2 linked regions of the Homo sapiens genome follow. The protein of the gene in region 1 purifies or fractionates together with the protein of each later gene. This does not show direct contact. Each region holds a gene or a part of one and is shown in the gene's direction. Other genes may lie near its edges. The genes, in order: CD46 and POGLUT1.

Region 1 (3,824 bases):
AAGTATGAAGACCATGTAGGGGACTTGCCCATTTAAAGAAAGAAATCACTGAATAACAGTGATTTAAAAGTATATACTCCCCAAGTACACATGAAACATTCTCCAAAGTAGACCATATTCTAGACAATAAGACAACTTTTAACAAACTTCAGAAAATTGAAATCATTCAACATGCATTATCACAATAGAATGAAAGCAGAAATCAATAACAAAGCCAATCCCCAAAGAATTGGAAAGTGTACAGGACACTTCTAAATAACCCATGCATAAAAGAAGTAGTCAGCAGGGAGATTAGAAAGTGTTTTGAATTGAATAAAAACACAACATCTCAAAATATCCAAATATGTAGGATGCAGCTAAAGCATTGCTTACAGGGGAATGTATAGCATAATATACTTGTGTTAGAAAAAAAGAAAAGTCTCAAATCAATGATCTAATTTTCCACCTTAAGAAACTAAAAAAGAGCAAGTTAAATCCCAAACTAGCAGATGTAAGGAAATGATAAAAATAGAGCCAAAATCAATGAAATTGAGAAAAGAAAAAAAAATAGAGGAAATCAGTGAAACCAACAGTTGCTACTTGGAGATCAATAAAGTGTGTAAACCTGTAGCCAGACTGACAAAAAAAGACGCAAATTAACCAATACTGAGAATGAAAGAAGTGGTGGCCAGGCGCGGCACCCCAGCCAGCTTGAAGACCCTGCCCTCCTGCAGCCGGCAGGGGCAGTCACTCCCGGACTTGTCCTTTTAGAAGTTCCAGCTTTACCACTTGCTGGTGGAGCCCAACCACTGCCGCAGGGTCCTCATCGCCAACACGCCTGGCAGATCCAAGAGGAGATGGCCCAGGATGAGACGTGGCACACACAGGCACCCGAGAGTGTGGGGTTGGCGTTGTTCCACTGCCTGGTTTCTGCAGAGATCCTGTGCCTGTGGCCTGTGCCCGCCATGTGGAAGCCAGAGGGGGTGTGCCATGCCCCCCGCTTTGGACACTGCTGCGTGAAGGGGCCAGTTTTCAGACCTTTGCTCTGTCACCTCAGCACTGGCGCCAGGAGCCCTGAAGAGCAGCATCTGGGAGACGGACAGCCCTGGGGAAAATAGAGGAGGCGTTCAGAAGTAGCTAGATGAGATATTTGAAATACTGAAGACCAAAAACCCCAGTTTGCATGGAAGAACTGGCCTCAGATGTGGTCAGTTCCTATGATGACCTGGACACACGGTGCTGACCCACACGATGGGAGGTGGCCCTGCAAAGCATTCAGAGGCTTGGGCCTGCTGCCGTCCGGCCTCCCACCTCCAGCTGCAATTGCATTCTGACCTGGGCAAGTAGGAACACGTAGTGGAGATCCTGATGGAGACCTGAGCCAGGCGTCCCGGAGTGCTGGCCAGGCGTGGAGTACGGGATCCAGCTAAGGGAGACTGGCCAGCCTATAGCCCCCCAGCCTTGCTGGCTCCTCTGCTAATTCCAGCAGGGTCTGCAGCCCCAGACCCATCCCCTTCCTTCCCGTCTGCAGAGGGCAGGCCAGAGGCTGGTCTCAGTGGGAGCTAGGGCTCTCCTCAAGGGCTTTTTGACCTTGGGCCAGTCTTGACATCCCCACAGCCCTGCGCCCCTCATCACTTTTCGTGTCTCTCGGAGACGGCGAGCTGCAACTGCAGCAATCTTGTTTAAATTTAGGTAGGTGAATTTCTTAGAATTAAGTTTCATATGTTTTGAGCAATAAGTTTTCTTAAGATATATATATTTTAATCTTTTTAGTTTTATCTCTGAATATTTTTTATTTTTTTTCAATGTATTTTTTTTCTGGAAACATTCTGTGCTGCTACATTAGAGCCTACACAGTTTAGTTGGTACATTTCATTCTTTTAAGGTTCAAATAAGGGATTTTATTTTCCAGTGAGTTTCCTTGCATTGTTAACAAGTCAACAGCGTTAACGTATGATTTTTTGGTTTTTTTTTTTTGTATACTTTAAATTTGTGTGCAACCCTTCTCATTTATGCCCTGTGTTACAGTGAGAGCTTGGTCAAAGTGGGGAAAACACACACAGCTGCTACACTTTTTTTTTTTTTTTTTGTCATTGGAACATTTGTGCCATGTCTTCCTAGACTTAAGTGTAAATTATGGAGGGTTTTATTTGACAATTTATATGTAAATGTCATTGAAGGCTAAGGTTAAATCTTTGGAAATCACAGGCACCAGTTGATCTTTAGAGACCTCAGATCCCCTCAGGTGGCGCCTTGTGATAGGCGGTGTTCTGGGAGGCTTCCTGTCAGGTTCCACAGCACAGGCACCTGCTCTGGGCACGGACTGAGCTCCTGGGGTGTGCACGGAGCTGCGGTGCGCCAGTCACATGCGCTTGGAAACAGCGTGTGCTGCTGGATTGGAAATGCCTACGTTGCTCTGTTAAATTGGTGCTGGAGCCAAAACCTAAGGTTAAATTTAAGTCTAGAATGAAAGAAATCTGAATCCATGTAATTAATGGCCGCTCGATCTTGAGAGTCCTTGACGGCCCTGCCTCAGGAAGTGAGGTGGGGGTGCCTACACCTTTCACTTTCCTTCCTCACGTCCACCCCGTATGTGTTTCTCATCCTTTTTCTGACTTCCCCCCATCCCTTAGCCAAAAAGCTTTATATTCTTTTGTGCATATGGTCATTCTTTAATATCAGTGATGTAAACTTTACTTGATTACTTTACAAAATTATTCAACAGACAAACAAAAGAATGAAAAAGAGAATATCACTAAATATCCTACAGACATTTAAAGGATGACAAGGGAATATTATAAACAACTTTATGCCTACAAATTTGACAACTGAAATGGACAGATTCCTTGAAAGATACAAAATGTCAAAACTCACTTGAAGATATGGATAACCTGAATACTCCTATATCTACCAAAGAAATAAAATTTGTAGTTAATAACCTACTGAAGGTCCAGATGGCTTCACTGGGGAGTTCTACCAACCATCTAAGGAATAAATCACAGCAATTCTACACAAGCGTTTCAAGAAAGTGCAAGAGGAGGGAACACTTCTCATCCCATTTTATGATGATAGCATTGTCCTTATACGAAAACCAGAAAACAAAAACATTATAAGAAAATTACAAATAATATCCTTGATGAACACAGGACCAAAAATCTTCAACAAAATATTAGCAAACCAAATCCTGTGATACATAAAAAGAAAAGTAAATCATGACCAAGTAGGATTTACCCTATGAATGCAAGATTAGTTCAAATGCAAAAATTAATCAGTGTAATTTGCCACATCAGTAGACTATTAAGGAGAAAAAAAATCATGTGGTTATCTTATTAGATGCAAAAAACAAAGAAAATGTTTGACAGAATTCATCATCTTATTTTTTCATGATAAAACTTCTCAGCAAACTAGGAACAGAAGGGTACTATCTATCTTACCCTGATAACAGACATCTACAAAAATCTCACAGCTAACATTACACTTCATGGTTCAAAAAAATTATACTTAGTGGTAAAAAGTAACATTGTACTTAGTGGTTAAAAAAACCTTACTTACATTTCTGTCTAATTAATAAAGACCTAATTCTGGAAGGAAAACAGTGAGGATGTCCACTCTTACCACTCCATTCAGCATTATATTGGAGATCCCACCCAGTACAGTAAGGCAAGAGAAAGCTATTAGGCACACATGTTGGAAAAGAAGAAATAAAAACTGTCTCTACTCACAATGAGATGCCACTAAATACCTATTGGAAAGGCCGAAATGTAAACACACACACCCCAAACTGACAATACCAGGTATTGACAAGGATATGGAGCAGATGAAACTCTCATATACTGATGGTGAGA
Region 2 (3,824 bases), on another chromosome or scaffold:
GACTCAAACTCCTGGGGTCAAGGTGTTATCCAGTTACTCCACCGTGTAGTTATTAATACCATTTTCCCCCAGGTAAACTAGTAAGCAATTTTTAGGCAGATAGAATGTTTTAAAGTCTAATCTTATATGAATACTTTTTTCTTTTGATACCTTCCCATTTTATTCAATTGAATTTATTCATGGTTATAGAAATACAATTTTGTTTTTTAGAACCCTCTGTTTAGAATCTCTAATGATGTTCATTTGTTACCTTGAAAATTTAATAATCTGCTTGTTTATCCATCTGCACTGATGTCTGCCTGCCACTGTTCATTCTATTTTTCTGATATTTTGGGAGTTTGTGCCCACTGATTTATATTTCACTCTGTAGAAGAATTCATTGTTCTTTACAGATCGAAGATTTCATTTGTTACTGTCAGAGAGGGTTTAAAAAAGAGGGCTGGGGTAGCACCAGGCTGTGGTGGCCACCGTTAGCACTTGCCTGGAGAAACAAGTCCTAACCTAGGTCTTTTGAGGGAGGATGGGTAGGTTAGGAGAATGAAAGAGAGAGAACAGTGATACACAGTTTGGGTTTGTGTATATGAAACACAGCTTCCCCAGGAGCCAAGGAAATAAAGAGAAGTAACTTTGAGTATAAATTGATACATGTTTTGTTAGATAGTTTGACAATATGTATCAAAATTGGAAATGTATACTGTGTATCCTTTGACCTAGCTGTTTCATGTCTAGAATGTATCCTAAGGAATTAATCAGATGAATGTGCAAAGATTTGTGTACAAGGATGTTTACTACCATGTTGTTTCTTAGAGCAGAAAGTTGGAAACTACCTAAAAGTCCATCAATAAAGGATGAAGTGAATCATAACATGACTATAAAATGGAATTTTTGCAGTGAGTCTTTGCCAGAGATTATAAAATGGAATATCGTGCATGAATGGAAAGGCAGTGTAGGTTTTAAAAACTCTGGGTTCAAATCCTGGCTCTTATTAGCTGCATGACTCTGTGCAAGTTGCTTAACCTCTAAAGGACCTCATTTGTAAAATAGGGGTGATAAAACCTACCTCTTAAGATTGTGAGAATGATTTTTTATTTACAAAGCACTTAAAACAATGTCTGTAACATAGTGAAGTGCTATATAGATGTTGGCTGTTATTATTATTTATATTTCCTATTAAGATTGTTACCTAACAGTATGTATGGTGTGACCTCTGTTACATAGAGCAAAGTTTCTCAGTACTAGTGTTGCTGACATTTGGGGCTGGATAATTCTTTGTCCTGGGAGCTGTCCTAACCACTGTAGGATTGTTCAGCAGCATTTCTGATCTTTACCCACTAAATGCCAGTAGCAGTCCCCTAGTAGTAACAATCAAAAATGTCTACAGACATGGCCAAATGTCCCCTGGGTGGGAGGGACGGGCAAAATTACCCCCAGTTGAAAGCTACTAATATGAATAAATGATTGCAAGGAAATTCTCGGCTAAAATGTTACATTGTTACCTCTGGACAGGGAGATTCCAGACGACTTCTTACTTTTATCTTTATGCTTTTTCATGAGAACTTTGCATGAGGAGCATGAAACATTTTCCACTAAAAACAAAACAACAAAAATCCAGTGCTATAGTGTCTCTGCTTGGGCAGGAAGAAGTATGGGGAAAACAAGATAGTTCTGGCCTTAGACTGGAGAATCAGGTAAAGGTGATCCATCCAGAAAAGGCCAGAGGATGAGCCACGTTGGCTGAGGGTGGAGGTCTGAGGGCCTGGAAAATACTGAGCAGCGTTCTCAGCTGAGTGAAAATGAGCAGCATGACATTATATGTATCTGAAAAGGACCTGTGCCTAGAAAGTTTATATCCTAAGTTTCTCCGTTACTGTAATCCAGCCCATCAATCCCTCATTAACTTCAGTTCAGCCTTCCCTTCCTTTTTCAGAGAAGATGCTGTGCAGACTTCTGTGCAGGGAGGGTTCCTACGAAGCAAGTTAAGAATGATGCATCTGTGAGCTAGCAGTTTCAGTAAGGAAGGCTGGTCATGGTAATGTGTACTGAGATCTGACTTTCAAGGACTTCATCTTTATAGAGCACTTAGTCTGGCTTTAAGAATACAAAGGTGCTTTTCAAATATCAAACTAAATCTGATGACACTTCCCACCTATGGAAAACATAAAATCAGAGAGTGATTTCCCTTTCATTCCATTTCTGATGCTTTTTTATTTTTTTGCAGTTCTGTACACATAATTAATTTCATCAGTAGCACCCTACTTAAAGTACAGAGGAAATCCACATTTGCCAAATTATAAACAGACCTAATCATGACCTTCAGGGTTTGGGGGCTTTTCTTTCAATGTTGTTAACTTGTTAATGGGGAGTAGATTTGTAGATACAACTGGGTAGCACCTCCAGAGCAATGAAATGGTAGCAAAAGGAAACAAAGTGTCCTTTAGGGCTTTTTCTTTTGAGTGACTTTGATTAGACTTACTTAGAAATATGAAGCTCTGGCCAGGCACAGTGGCTCACGCCTGTAATCCCAGCACTTTGGGAGGCCGAGGCAGGCGGATCACGAAGTCAGGAGATAGAGACCATCCTGGCTAACACGGTGAAACCCTGTCTCTACTAAAAAATACACAAAATTAGCCGGGCGTGGTGGCGGGCGCCTGTGGTCCCAGCTACTCAGGAGGCTGAGGCAGGAGAATGGCATGAACCCAGGAAGGGGAGCTTGCAGTCAGCCAAGATCGCGCCACTGCACTCCAGCCTGGACGACAGTGCGAGACTCCGTCTCAAAAAAAAAAAAGAAATATGAAGCTCTGAACTAATCTTCAGAAATGGTTAAAGCACATTCTTATATAGTTGAAAAAGATATATTGAAACTAATTAAATTCTATATTCTTAGGTCAGCAGCACAGTGGCCATGGAAAAAGAAAAACTCTACAGCATATTTCCGAGGATCAAGGTGAGTTATTTTCTGACATTTTACAAAGATATTCTTCCAAGTAATGTAAAATGTAAGTAACTTTGAGGGTATGACAAGCTCTGTAGTTCAAAGGGAAAGCTAAGATAACAAAGAAAGAAATGTGGAATCACAATTTTAGATTCGAGAATAATTCACATTATTTGCCGAAATCGCCATTGATTGAGTTGATATTCAAAGAAGTAAAGTTCATCCATTTCAGTCATTTAACAGATATTTTACATAGTGTCACAAATGTGTCGGTCATTGATTATGTGATGCCAAACACAACAGATGGGTGTCTTCTTACAGTCCCTAGGAGTAGCTTATGATCATGCCACGGTACTCTGCTGGTTAATGCAGAGCAGGACTCATCACCATATCTCTTGACTGCCTTTTTTATCACACCCTGTGGCTGCCAAATAGTGGTTAAGAGCACAGACTGAGACTGCTGAAAATGAAGAAGGGAGCAGGGAGGAAAGAGAAGAGAAAAATGGCAAAGGTAGTAGGAGGACCCTGTGTTGTTCAGCTCCATAGTCCCAAGGCCAAGAACAGTTCCTAGCATGTCAATATATGATAAATATCTGTGGAGCAGATGAATAGAAAAGACCATGAAGGGAGCAGGGTTTTGTAGTTTTAGCAAGTGAGTCCTTGCCAGAGATTATACTCCCTCTTCACCCTCCTCTTCACTTCGGAGCTAGACTTTAGGAGGTAAATGGATTATCCAGCTACTATGTCCTGTTTCTTACCAACTTCTCTGATTCTTAAATCTTGAAGTCACAAATTAACTTGGGGACCATGTCTGGACTTCAAGAGTTTTAGGACTCCCTTGAAATTATGTGAGGATATGTGCATTTTTCTGGGAAGGAGAGAGGGTTGGTTC

The links.
Region 2: the proteins of CD46 (region 1) and POGLUT1 fractionate together in Homo sapiens (co-fractionation; one large-scale study listed by BioGRID). This does not show direct contact.

What each region holds. Positions count from the first base shown.
Region 1 is NC_000001.11:207,761,905-207,765,728, forward strand, and holds part of CD46 (membrane cofactor protein isoform 3 precursor), read left to right. Parts: intron 1-3,824. UniProt on the Homo sapiens protein: Acts as a cofactor for complement factor I, a serine protease which protects autologous cells against complement-mediated injury by cleaving C3b and C4b deposited on host tissue.
Region 2 is NC_000003.12:119,482,444-119,486,267, forward strand, and holds part of POGLUT1 (protein O-glucosyltransferase 1 precursor), read left to right. Parts: intron 1-2,884; coding exon 2,885-2,944; intron 2,945-3,824. UniProt on the Homo sapiens protein: Dual specificity glycosyltransferase that catalyzes the transfer of glucose and xylose from UDP-glucose and UDP-xylose, respectively, to a serine residue found in the consensus sequence of C-X-S-X-P-C.